Regions from separate parts of the Homo sapiens genome. Here region 1 is linked to region 2. Evidence: fine-mapped expression QTL. A gene starts in region 2. The other region holds a variant in brackets. All regions are shown on one strand. Distances are from middle to middle.

Region 1 (8,344 bases), 230 kb after region 2:
AAATGAAGAGGTGTCCTTTTCATACATCTGCACTTGTGAAAGACAAAATTTCTCAAAATCTTGGCTCTTGTGGGTAGTGACTCGTTGTGTGTTTTGTTTTGTTTTTTTCCTGTCTCAGCCATTTTGGTTTTTGATCAATCTTGTCAAAAGACAAGAGGTTGTTCATCATAGTAATTCAGATGATTGCAGTTACGTAAAGCTGGGTGCACACAATTACCAATTAGAGAGATATATGTATACATTTCCCTTTTTGACCCTATTTCTCTATAAATATATTTCCTCTCATCTTAACTGTTATACCTCTGTGACTGTCATTAGTATACCTGAGTGTTTATGCTTACAAAAATATAGATTATCATTGGCTGTTTTTTTGTGTAAAGTGGCTTATGGAATGTTCTGTCATGTTGTTTATCAAATAAATCACCTTTTAAAAATGTAAATATCTTTAAAGATTAAAAAATTTTTTTTCCAGAATTATACTTTTAGGATTACAATGTTTAGGATTTCAGCTTTAGGGCTTCTGATCTTTTAGGATTTCAACATTAAGGATTAGGGAGTTCAGGACTGTATCTTTTGGGTATATGATTGGCTACCCTCCATTACCATCTTAACTGTTGATAGGATCAAGAAAGTAACCATTTTTGTATACTAAAAATTTAAGTGTGCTAACATCACCCAACTGATAAACAGTAGAGCCTGGAATTGAGCCCAGGTATTGTGGATCTGTAGCCCATGTCTTTAAACATGATATTCTAAACCTGCCACAACCTCACCTGTGGTAACCATTTCATGTATTATATTCTGTAACTCATGTTTGCTTACATATATCGTTTTATGCCGTGCATGCTCAACCATCCCATTATGTTCTTGTATTCTGAACAGAGAATTAATATTCTGGTTAATATGTTAGATATTGCCTATGCTTATTAATCTGTCTGTATTAGCTACTTATAGATCCTGCCATACCTCCCTATTTTTATGAATGCATCCTCTTTAGTTTCTGCATTGTTATAAAGAAATTAAAGTATCACTTCAAGCCATTGAAATCTATTGGTTGCCCAGCTTTCTAAAACAAGGCTAGGAAACTTAAATTTTATTTCAATAATATCTCTTGACGGTGATTGCCCTGTGGATTAAAATTTATATATATATATATATATATTAGCATTTTTGGTGTTCTTTTTATTTTACTCATACTATTTTTCTTTGGACTCAATCACAATAACAGAATTAAAGATCAAAGTGTAAAAGTTAAAGACCAGTACAGATTCAATAATTATTCTTTTCTACATACTGTGTTTAAATGATATCCCTTTTTCTTTTTGTTCTTTTTTTTTATTTTTTTAGTATTTATTGATCATTCTTGGGTGTTTCTCGGAGAGGGGGATTTGGCAGGGTCATAGGACAATAGTGGAGGGAAGGTCAGCAGATAAACATGTGAACAAAGGTCTCTGGTTTTCCTAGGCAGAGGGCCCTGCCGCCTTCCGCAGTGTTTGTGTCCCTGGGTACTTGAGATTAGGGAGTGGTGATGACTCTTAACGAGCATGCTGCCTTCAAGCATCTGTTTAACAAAGCACATCTTGCACCGCCCTTAATCCATTTAACCCTGAGTGGACACAGCACATGTTTCAGAGAGCAGGGGGTTGGGGGCAAGGTTATAGATTAACAGCATCCCAAGGCAGAAGAATTTTTCTTAGTATAGAACAAAATGGAATCTCCTATGTCTAATTCTTTCCAGACAGACACAGTAACAATCCGATCTCTCTTTCTTTTCCCCACACATCCCCCCTTTCTATTCGACAAAACCACCATCGTCATCATGGCCTGTTCTCAATGAGCTGTTGGGTACACCTCCCAGATGGGGTGGCGGCCGGGCAGAGGGGCTCCTCACTTCCCAGATGGGGCGGCCGGGCAGAGGCGCCCCCCACCTCCCAGACGGGGCAGCAGCCGGGCGGGGGCTGCCCCCCACCTCCCGGACGGGGCGGCTGCCGGGCGGAGGGGCTCCTCACTTCCCAGACGGGGCAGCTGCCGGGCAGAGGGGCTCCTCACTTCTCAGACTGGGCGGCCGGTCAGAGACGCTCCTCACCTCCCAGACGGGGTGGCGGCGGGGCAGAGACACTCCTCACTTCCTAGACAGGATGACGGCCGGCAGCCGGGAAGAGGCGCTCCTCACTTCCCAGACTGGGCGGCTGGGCAGAGGGGCTCCTCACATCCCAGACGATGGGCGGCCGGGCAGAGACGCTCCTCACTTCTTGTGGGGCGGGGTGGCGGCCGGGCAGAGGTTGCAATCTCGGCACTTTGGGAGGCCAAGGCAGGCGGCTGGGAGGTGGAGGTTGTAGCCAGCTGAGATCACACCACTGCACTCCAGCCTGGGCAACATTGAGCACTGAGTGAGCGAGACTCCGTCTGCAATCCCGGCACCTCGGGAGGCCGAGGCTGGCAGATCACTTGCGGTCAGGAGCTGGAGACCAGGCCAGCCAACATGGCGAAACCCCGTCTTCCCAAAAAATACAAAAACCAGTCACGCGTGGCGGCGCGCACCTGCAATCCCAGGCACTTGGCAGGCTGAGGCAGGAGAATCAGGCAGGGAGGTTGCAGTGAGCCGAGATGGCGGCAGTACAGTCCAGCCTCGGCTGGGCATCAGAGGGAGACCGTGCAAAGGGGAGACGGAGACGAGAGGGAGGGGGAGGGGGAGGGGGAGAGGGATTTTCTTTCATCTGTTAAATATGTAGTTTACTTTTGACAGTTTCTTTAATTTCTGTATATTCTTCCCTTGTATGGAAAGGCAATACAAATCTCTGACAAAATGAAGCAAAACAAAACAAAAATTTAAGCATACTCAATGGCAGCATACTCTTTTACTTTTATTCTGTTCACTTTTTCATAGATACTTTTGAGGAGATTTCTAGCGTGGTGGGCAAAAATTCACTTTTCTACTCACACAAAATGTCAAGGGTTGGCTCTCTGCTTTTCAATGGTAGGGAGCTGTAAAAAGAAAATTGGTACAGCCAAGTATGTTGATTAGTGTTATGCTTTCTCAGTCATGCTAAGTTCTAAGAGAGTATCAGTTTCAACATACGTTAGTGTTTGCATGGCAGTCACAAGAGAAAACAAAGAAAACCATTTGAATTTTCTTCAGAGAACGAAATCAAAACACTATTTTTAAAGATCTGTGTAAACTTGGAATGTCATCATATAGAGAGGTATATCAAAAAAAGCATAGTGTTTGGATGTAGAAATTCTTGATTTAAAAGTCTGGGCTCTGCTGTCTTTCAGCAGTGAGTGTTAGTGGGCAAATCATCCATCCTTGAACCTTGATATAAACGTAACTGCCCTACTGACCATTCTTGATTTTGCTGAGAATAAAATGATGTTATGTGTGTTAACTAATGTTTGGTCCATCTAGTATTATAAATAGGCTATTTTTCTCCCACCACCATTATGATTTTGATAGCATCTAGCTGTCATATAGGGTAGTGCTTCCCCACCCTTTTCTCATCATGTGCATAGACAATGAGAATGTTTGCATAGTAGATTGAGGTAAGTGGACGAGACTCTTATGAACAAAGGCAACCAGCCCTGGGGGCTCTGGCCAGTCTAGGTCCTACCCAGTTGACCTGTGGACTGAGGTGAAGCAGCAGCTTGGCACACCTCTGACCTATTAGGAGCAAACCAATGCTTTAGGGTATATTGGTCAGATGGCTCTGAATCAGGAAACAAAGGAAAACAAGACTTTAATATTACTTTTTGACACAAAAAACTACTTTGGAAAAATTTGTCTTGCTAAACATGTTTTGTTATTACTCATTGATTTACTCACATTATTACTCATTGATTTTCCCTGTATTTCTATAGTATCTTTAAAGTCCAGGTCAACAAGGGCTAGATCTGTTTAGGCTTAGTGTAAAGCTAGAGAATGAATAACTCAAAGTATCTATGCAGTGGTTCATGATAGAGGCATGATAATACCC[T/A]AAGAACTGTAATTTACATTTATCAAACTCTTATTTTACTGTTGATAATTTGGGACTATCAATTACTATAGCTTTATATGCATTAGGATACCCAGTTGTATACAATGAAAAATTTACCATATTAGCATAACAACTGGGGTTTGTTTTTCTAAGCAAGAAGTCCAGACAGAATTCATGCTCTTTCTGACTTCCTCCTTCACTGTCCTAGGTGTGGTTTTTATCATCATGGTCATGCGCTGGATGCTTCCCCTCCAGGGAGAAGTGTCCATGCTTTGGGAAAGAAGTGAGGAAGGATGAAGGTAAAAGGCATATACTGGCCAAATCTGTCCTTTTTTATTAGGAAAACAACAGCTTTCTTGAAAGCCCCACTCAGAAGACTTGCATCCTTGGCTAGATCTCGGTTTCATGGCAACCTCTGACTGCAAGAGAATCTGATGAGTGTATATTGTAACTGGGTGTATATTTGTCATAAACAAAGTAAGGATTCTGTTAGAAGATAGAAAGTGAAAATGTACATTAGGTAGGAAACTTGTATTTGCTACAATTACAGACTTCTCTAACAGAGGAAATTCTAAGGCAAGATACTGTGAGTTGGAGTGATGCCCAGTGTTTTAATATTACAGTTATAATATTAAAATTTTTTACAGTGTATACTGAAATAATGATCTATTCTGTGCTGGACTTATATCATAAACATTCTCAGATTATCAATATTTATTGACCACATTTATGTACCTAGCATTAGTCTAAGCTCTCTAAGCATTGAAACCCTGGGACAGTGGTAATAGAATGTAGAGGCTCTGAGCACAGGATTCGGAGTCAAGTGGATCTGGGTTCTGGTTTTGACTCTGACTCTTAGTAGTTGTGTGCTGATTTCCATAAACTTGCATGTCTAATAAATGTAGCCCAAATATCTGAATTCAAGTGAAATGTATCTGTAATATGAACTTCTCTTTGGGAGAATTTATTTGCAGATACACTACTAGTTTTTCAAACATGGTTTGGGACAGACAATATGGTATTGTGTCTAAATCTGGAAATGGTAGAGTTAGTTTTCATTGTGTTTTCAGGTTTTCCATGACAATTCTTTCCTTTAATCCATCAAAGTATACTTTTTGGGAGTTTTGTGGATGTCTGGGTTTTTATGGTAGGTAAAAGGAGTCATAAGGCATAATATTATTGTGTTTTATTGATGGAAATGTTCTCAACAATTATCTAGTCTATTCGCTCTGCTCATGAGGACAACAAGGTTAATTGAGGCCACAAAAGGTTATTTGACTTGCCTCAAATCACCAATCATAGCCTGTTCAATGAGGGGATAGGACTAAGGTTTGTGTCTCCCAATTCCCAGTCCAGAATTCCTTTTACTAGACCAGTGATTCCCAACCTTTGGCTTACGGATCCCTGGGAAAACCTAAGACTTAGTGCAAAGGTTTACTGATTCATGTGTGCTTTATGTATCATCCATGAACTAAATATTACTCTCACATATAAATATACAAATATTTGTAGATACAGTTGTGATTTATAAAAGATAAATTTATTTAAAGACAGTGCTGAAGTTGCATAATTTTTTCCCATTTTTCAATTAACAGGTATCAAAAGCATAATTATATTGTGTCTTCATACTTTAAAAATGGTTGAAATCATGGGTTAGCACAGGAATCTCAAACTCAGGTATTTACAGAGGCTAGCAAGAAATATAAATAAGTAAAGTAGGTTAGGTTTTGGGGAAACAACAGTGAAAATGCAATGATAAATGGCAGGGATGTATAGTCTTACTAAAAGGGACAATAGGGAGTGGTGGAGACTGTGTCAAACTGGAGATCCTCTTTTTTTTTTTGAGATGGAGTCTCGCTCTGTTGCCAGGCTGGAGTGCAGTGGTACAATCTTGGCTCACTGCAACCTCTGCCTCCTGGATTCCAGCGATTCTCCTGCCTCAGCCTCCCGAGTAGCTGAGACTACAGGCACGTACCACCATGCCCAGCTAATTTTTCATATTTTTAGTAGAGATGGGGTTTCACCATGTTGGCCAGGATGGTCTCGATCTCTGATCTCTTGACCTTGTGATCCGCCCACCTCGGCCTCCCAAAGTGCTGGGATTATAGGCGTGAGCCACCACGCCTAGCCTGAGATCCTCTTATTTTTGCCAGGGAAGCATGAGTCTGGTATTGCCATCTCTCAAGAAACCAGGAATCTGGATTTTTAAAAATTTGAAATCACCAAAGTTTAAGAAATTGGTTTATTTTCCAAAACATTACATGAGTCAAATAAATCTTATTGGGGGACAGAATTCAGCTTGTGGACTTAACAATTTCCAGTCTTTATTCTAGAGCCCCCGCCTTAGGCATTGATTACAGAGGAATGCTTTTGAATTTCTAACTCTAGAAATTATTAGAAATCTAAAAGATCTCCAGATGGATAAAATGATGCCCTGTACTTTTATCAGAAAGCAAGGGAAAGTACCCAATGATCTCCTTTTTTGATTACTTTTAACTAAAAAAAAAAATTACATTTGTTTACATTTTAATCTGGCTTAAGTTTACTAGTGATGTAGAATAGTTTTTTGGTTTTTTTTTCAAATAGATTCTATAAAGTTACCATTTAAGTGGAAGTAGGCTTCTCATAGAACTCTGTCTATTGAACAGAAAAGGCTGAGAGGCAGTTTTGGGTTAAATACAAGGCAGACATCTCTGGAAACTAAAGCCAGCTAGAACGTCTGATTTACTCCATGAGAAGAGCTTCCCAGCATGAGGAACTGACTGACACTGGGCCTTCTGCATTGGTAGGAATTGCACTAATTGAGCTCTAGGTCTTTAAGAAACTAGAATGTGAAAAGTAAGTTTTATGGAAAAGTGTGAGGCTCTCCTCATGTTCTGTCAAGATGGTATGTTTTCTAGCTACAGCTATATCTGTGCTTCCTTTGCTATTTAATTCCCAAAACTTTGACATAAAATAATGGTATAGAGATTCCTGTTACTCGAATTGGAATAATCAAAAGCTTCACATTTATTTGCATAAAATGTATAAATTACCTTTGTAGTGAACCACGCTTTTTAAAAATTATCATCAACTTTTTAAAAATTTTGATTTTAGTTCTTCTCTAAATTTTTTCTTCTCTATTTTTCTCACCTGTTCATTACCTTGTTTAAATTCAACCATGTATAACAAATGAGGAAAGACAGGTCTGGTTTAAAAAGCACTGTTTTTTTTTTAAATTTTATTTTATTGTGATAAGAACACTTAACATGAGATCTACCCTCTTAAGTTTTGAAGTGTACAATACGGTATTGTTAACCATAGGCACCATGTTGCACAGCAGAATAAGTAGAATAAGTTCTACTCTTTCACCTTACATACCTGAAACTTTATGCCCATTGATTAGCAAGCAACTCCCCAGTTCCCCTCACCCCAGCCCTGGGTAACCATCATTTCACTCTTTGATTCTATGAATTTACCTATACCTCATATAAATGGAATCACACAGTATGTGCCCGTCTGTAACTGGCATATTTCACTTACTGTAATGTCCTCAAGGTTCATCCATGTTGTCACATATTACAGAATTTTCTTCTTTTTTAAGGTTGAATGAATAGTCCATTTTTTCAAAGAGATATTGGCATTCTGGTATTCCCTGAAGCACTATTCATAATTGTCAAGCTATGGAAACAACCTAAATGTTCATTGACAGACAAATGGAAAGCAGTGTTCTTAAAGACATTGGGAAGGTAGGCATAGTCTAGTGAGCTTTCAATTGGGGTTCTCTTACATTCCCCACTAGAAATCTAACAGAGCAGAGTCTTATCAACTGTGAATGAGGAAGGAGTTGAGGATTTGTTTTTCCTTGGGTTGTGGAAGGCAGCTCATGTTAATGTCTTTAGCTCTAGTTTCCAAAGGAAACCATGTATGTATTCTTATCCATAGTAAAACAAGACCACATTCTACAACCAGTAGTAAAAATCTATTTGCAATGATTTGTTTATGTTATCTCTCTTCTTTGGAAAAGTCTGGGTCTAATGTAGACCATATAAAATTATTATTGTTCTTCATGGCTACCACTTAATTATAAAAGCTTTCATCTCCATTAGCACAAGGCATGGACGTTTTGTTTATTATGTTTGAGAAGTTATGTCTTTCAAACAAAGCATTTTTCATACTTAGCCAAGTAATTTTCTCCAGCCTTGTAGAAAGTGAGTCTTCTTTATAACATATGAAGTACTTCCAAACAGAGAATTTTTTTTTTTTTTTTTTTTTTTGAGACGGAGTCTTGCACTGTCGCCCAGGCTGGAGTGCAGTGGCGCGATCTGGGCTCACTGCAAGCTCCGCCTCCCGGGTTCACGCCATTCTCCTGCTTCAGCCTCCCGAGTAGCTGG
Region 2 (8,344 bases):
ACCCCCAGCACTCCCTTGTCATGACTGTACTTTCTTCCTGCACAGGTCAAATCCTGTAGATTCTTCTCATATTCCCTCTCTTTTCCCTTTTCTGACACTTGCCACTGTTGGCCACTCTAGTCTTAAAACTTGCACCTCTCATTACTCCATTCACTGGCTTGACTTCTTCTGCCCATCAAGAAAAGTTGCTCAGAGTTCTCTCCATCACCATCATTGTCTTCTTTCTTTTTTGTGTTCTCTTAAGGCACTCTGAAGCACACCCATTTACTAATAATCCCAATTACCATATTTCTCTTCTGTATTCTGGAATCACACATCCAACAGCATGCTAGATGTTTCTGCCTCGATGTCCCACAAGCATATTGAAAACCTCATGTCCCCACACCTATTAGGATGGCCATTATCAAAAAACCCAGGAAATATCAAGTGTTGGCAAGGATGTGGAGAAATCCGAACCCCTGTGCATTATTAGTAGGAATATAAAATGTTGCAGCCTCTGTAAAAAACAAAACAAAAACAGAGGTCCATCAAGAAGTTAAAAATAGAATTATCATATGATCCAGCAATTCCACTCTGGGTCCATGTACAAAAGAACTGAAAGTAGGATTTGTAGGGAAAGAAAACCATACACCTTTAGGGAATTATTTGAAATCTGTATGTGTCACTTCCAACTATCTTATTCACCCGTGCCTCATCATTTGTCCATAGCTAGCTGCAAGAGGCTTGGAAAAGTAGTCTTTAGCTGTGTGTCTATGAGTTCAGAATAAACCTATTACTACAGAAGAAGAGACAAATAAATATTGAGGCGACCACTAGCACTTACTGGCACAATATTCAACCATGACTTCATGAGTGCCTTGCCCTTTCAGAGAAGATGAAGTATTAATTCACTCAAACTTACCTAATGAATGTATGATTCAGCATGAGATGCAAGGGGTAGAAACAAAAAGTGAGCTTGAGATCAAGATTAATGCAGGTGTTAGTAACTAGGCACTGACCTGGGTTTAAATGGAAGAGCAAGGGCTGTCATCCAACAACTTATTCAACTTAAGCTCCTTAAAATAATTTTCATGCTGACAAGGATACAAACATGTAGGAATATCTTCTTGTTTACTAGTTCAACATTTGAACTTGGGTCTGTCATTGGCCCTTTTACCTACTAGGTTCTACCAGGTTTATGACTCTTCTGCTGCATATTCAAGGTGCCATTATTCACAATAGCTAAAAGGTGGAAGCAGACCAAATGTCCATAGGCAGATGAATGGATAAACAAAATGGTGTAACATACAATGGAATGTTATTCAGCCTCAAAAAGAAAGAAAATTCTGATGCACGTTACAATATAGATTAACTTGGAGGACTTTATGCTAAGTGAAATAAGTCAATCACAACAAAACAAATACTGTATTGTTCCACTTATATGAGGTATCTAGAGTAGTCAACTACTACATTGCCAACAACTAGAGTAGTCAACTCATAGAAACAGAAAGTAGAGTGGAAGTCACCAAGGACTGTGGAGAGGGGGAATGGGGAGTTGTTGTTTAATGGGTACAGGGTTTCAGTTTTGTGAGACAAGAAGTTCAGAGATTGGTTATACAACAATGTGAATGTACTTAATGCCACCAAAATGTACATTTTACAATGGTTAAGATGGTGTGACTTTTATGTTACACTTATCTTGCCATAAGGAAACAAACAAACAAAAATATGTCCCCACTAAACTCTGTATTTATTCCGCAATCTGCTTCTCTTAATGGTTTTTCAAATCTCAATGACTGGCATTCATCAGTCATCCAGACAGAAAGCTGGGTGCTAACCTGAAATTCTCCTTCCGTGTCACCCTCTCTGTCAAACTAATAAGCAAGCCCTTTGGCACTATATTCTTAACGTCTATTCATACTCCCCACTCTGTCCATCTGCTTGTTACGCTTTTCAACTCTCTCACCCAGATTTGCTGCTGATACTATTATTTTCTTAACTGCTCCCTCTGCGCTAAATTGCTCCATTTCAAATTATTTTCCATGTTTTGACTAGAACCATTTTTTTTCTAAAATCCAGATGTGAACAAATTATTTCCATACCCCAAAATACATTAATACTTCCCCACTGGCTGCTACTACTTAGAATGGAAAATAAGGCTCTTGCTGATCTAGCCCATTTCTTTCTTTTCTAATTCCTTGCTCTTATTTCTTCTTGCGCCTTTTTTCATACAATGCACTCCAGCTATAGGAAACCCTTTGTAGTTCCAGAGAACATATTGTACTGTTTTATGCCTCTACGACTTTGTTTATGCTGCACTCTGTGCCTGGACTGCTAAGAATCCTCCTCCCCATCCTGTCCACCTGGTGAACACCTGGGTTTCTTTGAAGGCAAGTCAAAACTCATGCCCTATATGAAGCTTTTTCTGACTTCTTCCTTTTTCTCTTAGAATTTATTTTTCCTCCTTCTTGACTCCTATACAAAAAATTTTAAAAAGTATTTGCTTCTGTAACATTTTATTGCACTTGTTTTACATGTGTGGGTCCCTTTATTTCATCATAATTATTTTGAAATCAGGGCTGTGGTTTAGTTTTCTTTATATCCTTAAAACCCAGACAGTGTTTGGAATACTGTACGTATTTATTAAAAATTGGCTGGATATATTATTATGTGGAATTTTTTTTTTTTTTGAGACAGAGTCTCGCTCTGTCGCCCAGGCTGGAGTGCAGTGGTGCCATCTTGGCTCACTGCAACCTCTCCCTCCTGGGTTCAAGTGATTCTCCTGCCTCAACCTCCCGAGTAGCTGGGATTACAGGTACCTGCCACCATGTCCAGCTATTTTTTGTACTTTTAGTAGAGACGGAGCTTCACCATGTTGGCCAAGCTGGTCTTGAGCCCCTGACCTCAGGTGATCTGCCCACCTCGGCCTCCCAAAGTGTTGGGATTACAGGCATGAGCCACCGCGCCTGGCCATGGATATTAATTGAACATTCATTCAACGAACATTTATTGAACACCTGTTATAAGTGTTGGGGATACCAAGCATCTAGTGCATAATTTAGCAAAACAGATAGTTTAAAGAAAATAGTGTTAATACTTACCCCATGATATGGCAAGTACTTAGCGAATGTATCAATTGAGTGGTTTGATAGGTGGGGGAAGTGAGAGGTGATAGGGTGATAGTGGTGGTGAGTTAGAAAAAGTCTCTCACAGGCAGTACTGTTGGAATGATTATTTTCGGTAAGTTTACCAGGTAAATTCTTTGTGGATTAGGTAATGAATTTTATTAACCATTGCATCTTTGAAGCTTAGCACAGAGATTATACTTAGTAATGTAAGTATATTGGTGGAACAAACAGAACCCATAAAACATTTTGGGTTCAGCCTATTGACTTCATTGTATCGGTACAATTTTTCTCCATGTTGGGAATAGCTGGAGAGAAATTGAGAAATCAAGAAGGATGTTGATGCTTTTTAAAGAGTGTGGATGTATCCTATAGGCAACTGGGCTAGGAGAAGCTTTTAAGCAGGAAAGTTGTAGGACCAACTTTGTTTATTAGGAAGAAAATAGAATTGGAGGGTAAAGAGATCAAAAGTCAGAAAATGTTGGGAGATCATTGCCTGGGTGAGCGATGATGTTGGGTTTTTGTGACAGCAAAAATGGAGAGGAAGGGCTGAATTCTGAGAGTTTTTAAGCCTATAAGATGTAGTGACGATGAGATGAGGGAGGAAAGATGGAGAAAGTGAAAATGAGAACAACAGGGTTTGTTATGAGGCTTGTGGGCGATAACGTATGTGACAGCAATCTATAAACCCAAAATATTGCACACGGTTGTTTTTATTATCTTTTTCTAGTTGCTCTGAGTTTAGATTGAGAAGGTGGCTGTACTTTTGGAGACGTGTTCATATCTAAGGAAGATACCAAATTTCGGATTAGGTTTTTATTTCGGAGACTTTTCAAGGAACATGAGAAGATTATCTGAGAAGATTATCTGCGCAGACAGGCCGAGCGACGGAAAGAACTCAGTTCAGCTCCATCTCAGGAAACACCTGATCTCCACGAGCTTTTGAGGAAGCCCGGAGCCACAGAGCCCCACCCACTTCTTTCCCGACCGCGCCATCCTTCCTCACTCCCGGCCTCCTCTCTAGCCAATCACCGCTCAGTTTAACGTCATCACCGAGCGCCATCAGGGAGCGTGTCAGAGGCCGACCACGTGTACTGTGGAGACTGTCAAAGTCTCCCGGAGCCCAATTTCCGGAAGCGGTGAGTTCTGAAAGAAGTTCCTGCACCGTAGTTTCCCAAGTCTGCGAATCCCCAACCATGAGCGCCTCGGGCGTACTGTCCTTTACCCAGCAAGGATGGGAGCAGGTGCTGGCCAAAGTGAAACGGGCTGTGGTTTACCTGGACGCCGCCTGCGCCGAGAGCCTGCACTGGGGCTGCGGATCCACCCGTCTCCTGGAGGCGGTGGGGGGTCCTGACTGTCACCTGCGAGAGTTCGAGCCCGACGCAATTGGTGGTGGAGCCAAGCAGCCCAAGGCAGTGTTTGTGCTGAGCTGCCTGCTGAAAGGCCGGACCGTGGAGATCCTACGGGACATCATCTGCCGCAGTCACTTCCAGTATTGTGTGGTGGTCACAACCGTGAGCCACGCTGTCCACCTCACAGCTAATCATGTCCCAGCGGCGGCAGCGGCCGAGATGGAGGGGCAGCAGCCGGTGTTCGAGCAGCTGGAGGAGAAGCTGTGTGAATGGATGGGCAACATGAACTACACGGCCGAGGTGTTCCATGTCCCGTTATTGCTTGCCCCTGTTGCTCCCCACTTTGCCTTGACTCCAGCTTTTGCATCCCTTTTCCCACTGCTACCCCAGGATGTGCACCTCCTTAATAGCGCCCGACCGGACAAGAGGAAGCTGGGAAGCCTGGGTGATGTGGACTCCACTACGCTAACCCCAGAGCTGCTGCTGCAGATCAGATGCCTAGTGTCAGGCCTCAGTTCTCTGTGTGAACATTTAGGAGTACGGGAGGAGTGTTTTGCTGTAGGTTCCTTAAGTCAGGTCATCGCTGCGGATCTGGCCAATTATGCCCCTGCAAAGAACAGGAAGAAGACTGCTGCAGGCAGGGCATCAGTGGTTTTTGTGGACAGAACCCTGGATCTCACAGGTAAGTGCATTGCTCTGGAGTTCTTCATTACCATTCCCCACATTGCTGGGACTTTCATTGATTCAGCATATATTTTATTGACCTTTTATTATATATTAGATTGAGGATACAAAGATGAACTAGATGGACACGGTCTCTAATCTCACAGAGTTTATTGTCTAAAGTGGAATACAGACAGGTGAATTAGCAATTACAATAACATTTGTTAAATGCTGTAATGGGTAGAAATGTCATAAATGCCCATTGCCTTGTTAAACAACAACTTTAGCCCAAGATTATGCTGACAGGGAGGAAAACTGTGCACCTGGGAAATTTTATTTTTAGAAATTTACGAATGCCAGTATTCACAACAGTCCTTCATAAGAAGACTCTGGTTTGTTGGAGAAGTGTTAATAGATGACCCAGCGGAAGGAAAACTACTGCACAAGAAAACATAAAATTATTACAGACAATTGAGGTTTAGGAAATGAGTGTTCAAAAGTGAGGCTGAACTTAAATGTTACTAGTAAATGAGATGAAATAGAATTGTAGAAAATATTTTCAAATGTTTATTGATTTATTTTTAGCTCTCATTGTATTAAAGATTAAGTAAATAATCTCAAATTGTAATAATGTATTATTTACACAAAAGAAACAAATGTAATCCTTAAAGCAGATGAAGAAAAGACACTTTCTGATGTTTGATATGTTATTTTCAAAGGTCAACTTTATTGTTCTCTAATTAGGTTGTATAATACTGTTAGTAATATAGCCTAGCCACTTCCAAGTCCAGGGAGAATAATCGGAAAACTGACATTGGTAGGCATTCCCTTTAATCGGTCAGAAAAAAAGTTGAATTAAGTTATAAAAAACGAAATAGGTATATTTGAGTTTTTAATCTTAATAAGATTAATTTTCAGATAAAAAATGGAAAGTAGGCTAAATGGTAATACTGAGATGTAAACTTAATTATGTGACTGGAAAAACCAGGTGTCCAGTCTGTGATTTAAATATATAAGTAATAACTGTAGCATCACAGAGTCCATAGGGGATTAAAAGATAAAACCTGATAAGTAGATGCTTGTTGAGTTTTTTTGTGGATGCTATATATTACTGTTACTTCTATCTCTTTATGCCAAAAATGTAGCAAAGTTGTTTCATAATCAACTGGGAAGTTCACATAATTTTGTACCCTCCCCTAAGACTTCTGTTAGGCAAAACTTAATATCCCACTGTCCAGCATCATAGTAACAGCTCTTTACATCTTCAGTAGGTAATGCTTTTTTTTTTTTTTTTTTGAGACGGAGTCTCTCTCTGTCGCCCAGGCTGGAGTGCAATGGCGCAATCTCGCGAGGCTCACTGCAAGCTCCGCCTCCCGGGTTCACGCCATTCTCCTGCCTCAACCTCCCGAGTAGCTGGGACTACAGGCGCCCGCCACTACGCCGGGCTAACTTTTCGTATTTTTAGTAGAGACGGGGTTTCACCGTGGTCTCGATCTCCTGACCTCGCGTGATCCACCCGCCTCGGCCTCCCAAAGTGCTGGGATTACAGGCGTGAGCCACCGCGCCCTTTTTTTAAACATACAGAATAAATAAGGTGAGCATAACTTCTGCCCTCTAAAAGTTTACAATATAATGTAGTCAAGTATCAATATAACGTAGTCAAGTATGATTTAGAGCCCGGCACAGTGGCTCATGCCTGTAATCCCATCACTTTGGGAGGCTGAGGGGGGCAGACTGCTTGAGCTCAGGAGTTTGAGATCAACCTGGGCAACACAGCAAAACTCAATCTCTACAGAAAATTTAAAAATTAAATAAAAAATGAAAAAACTAGCCAGGTGTGGTGACCTGTAGTCCCAGCCACTCAGGAGGCTAAGGTGGAGGATAACTTGAGCCCAGAAGGCAGAGGTTGCAGTGAACCACCATCACATCCCTGCACTCCAACCTGGGTGACAGAGTCAGATTCTGTCTCAAAAAAGAAAAAAAAAAGAAAAAAAGAATGATTTGCAAAATAAAGACACATAGAAAGACAAAGTTGCCATTTGGCAGCAATCATTTTATAGATTCTCCCTTATCAAGTGTCCAGATCTCCTTCCCCATACTCACTTTTCTCGCTTCTAATATCACTGAGAAAATATAAGCCACTAAACAAATCTGTATTTTCCCATCACCAAATCTACCACCCTTCCTACATCTGTACCCATGTCTTTTTCCTTCCTTCATATTGAAAAGAAATATACTGTCCCTGCCACTAACGCCAACTTTTTCACCTATGTAGACTAAAGCCTCTCTTTTCACTTCTCTCATAGATTTACTGTTTTTCAAATACCCTCTCCCTTTCTTAGATCATCATTTTTTCCTTTTCTCTGTATTTTCACCCAGGGAACATCTTCTGTCTTGACCTCTCATGCTCTTCCAACTTCAATTCCATTTTTTTTTTTGCTTTATTTTATAGCAAACTTGAAAGAGTTGTCTATACTTGTTGTCTCCACAAACATCTGCTCCAATTTTCTCTTGACTCCAGTTAGAGTTTTATTTTCCAATACTTCCCAGAAACTTCCTTTGTTTTATTACCACACTAATTCTACTGAACTTCAAAGCAGCATTTGACACAGGAAAGCATGCAAATAGTTAAAAAACAATTAAAGAAGTATGAAACCTATACAGACAAGCAACCACTTAGGCCAGCTTCTTATATAATCCCTCAAAGCATAACTATGACATATCATTTACTTGCTCAGTATTCAAGTGGCCTCTGATCATACCTCCTGTCAAGTTCCTCACTGTTGTTTTCAAGGCCATACCTGATCTCCCCTCTTACAACATTGGCTACCTTGCCATTGTCAGACATGCTAAGCATGTTCCAGCCTCAGGGCCTTTGCATTTCCTCTGCAGCTCTGCTTGGGATGTTCTTCTTCGAGGTATCCATATGGCTTTCTCCCTCACATCATTCCTGCTCCTCAGAGAGGCCTTCCTGGGTGAACTTCTTTGACACTCTCTTACCCTTACCTGGCTTTATTTGTCATAGCCTTTACTATTCCCTGACACTACTAATTGATCATTTATTACCTGTCTCCTCCCACTTGAATGGAAGTTCTTGAAGGGAGGGACTCTGTTTTGTTTACTGTTTATTAACCAGCAAGAGTACCTTCAAAACAGTAGGTATTCAATATATATTTATTGAATGAATGGATAAATGAGTGGATTAAAGGTCGTAGATACCAGACA

Which allele goes with the higher level. Positions count from the first base shown, and alleles are read on the strand shown. Sizes are in standard deviations (SD) of each study's normalised expression.
For the expression in tibial nerve of the gene that starts at base 4,181 in region 2, A is the high allele of the variant in region 1 and T is the other (small effect, 0.14 SD a copy in GTEx).

Evidence for each region. PIP is the estimated chance that this variant, and not a neighbour inherited with it, causes the effect.
Region 1: its variant is the best candidate, but not a certain one, in a credible set for the expression of SCFD2 in tibial nerve (GTEx, PIP 0.56).

What each region holds. Positions count from the first base shown.
Region 1 is chr4:53,133,211-53,141,554 of GRCh38, reverse strand. The region is part of intron 5 of SCFD2 (sec1 family domain containing 2); the gene reads left to right. Among named protein-coding and RNA genes, the nearest start is that of SCFD2-AS1, 210 kb to the right of the region's middle. The variant T/A (reference allele first, on the strand shown) is at 3,972.
Region 2 is chr4:53,361,898-53,370,241 of GRCh38, reverse strand. It overlaps SCFD2 (sec1 family domain containing 2), which reads left to right and starts at 4,181. Exons shown (of 9, transcript NM_152540.4): 1 at 4,181-5,138. The coding sequence starts at 4,301. RefSeq lists enhancers at 4,216-4,265, 4,286-4,485, 4,706-4,755.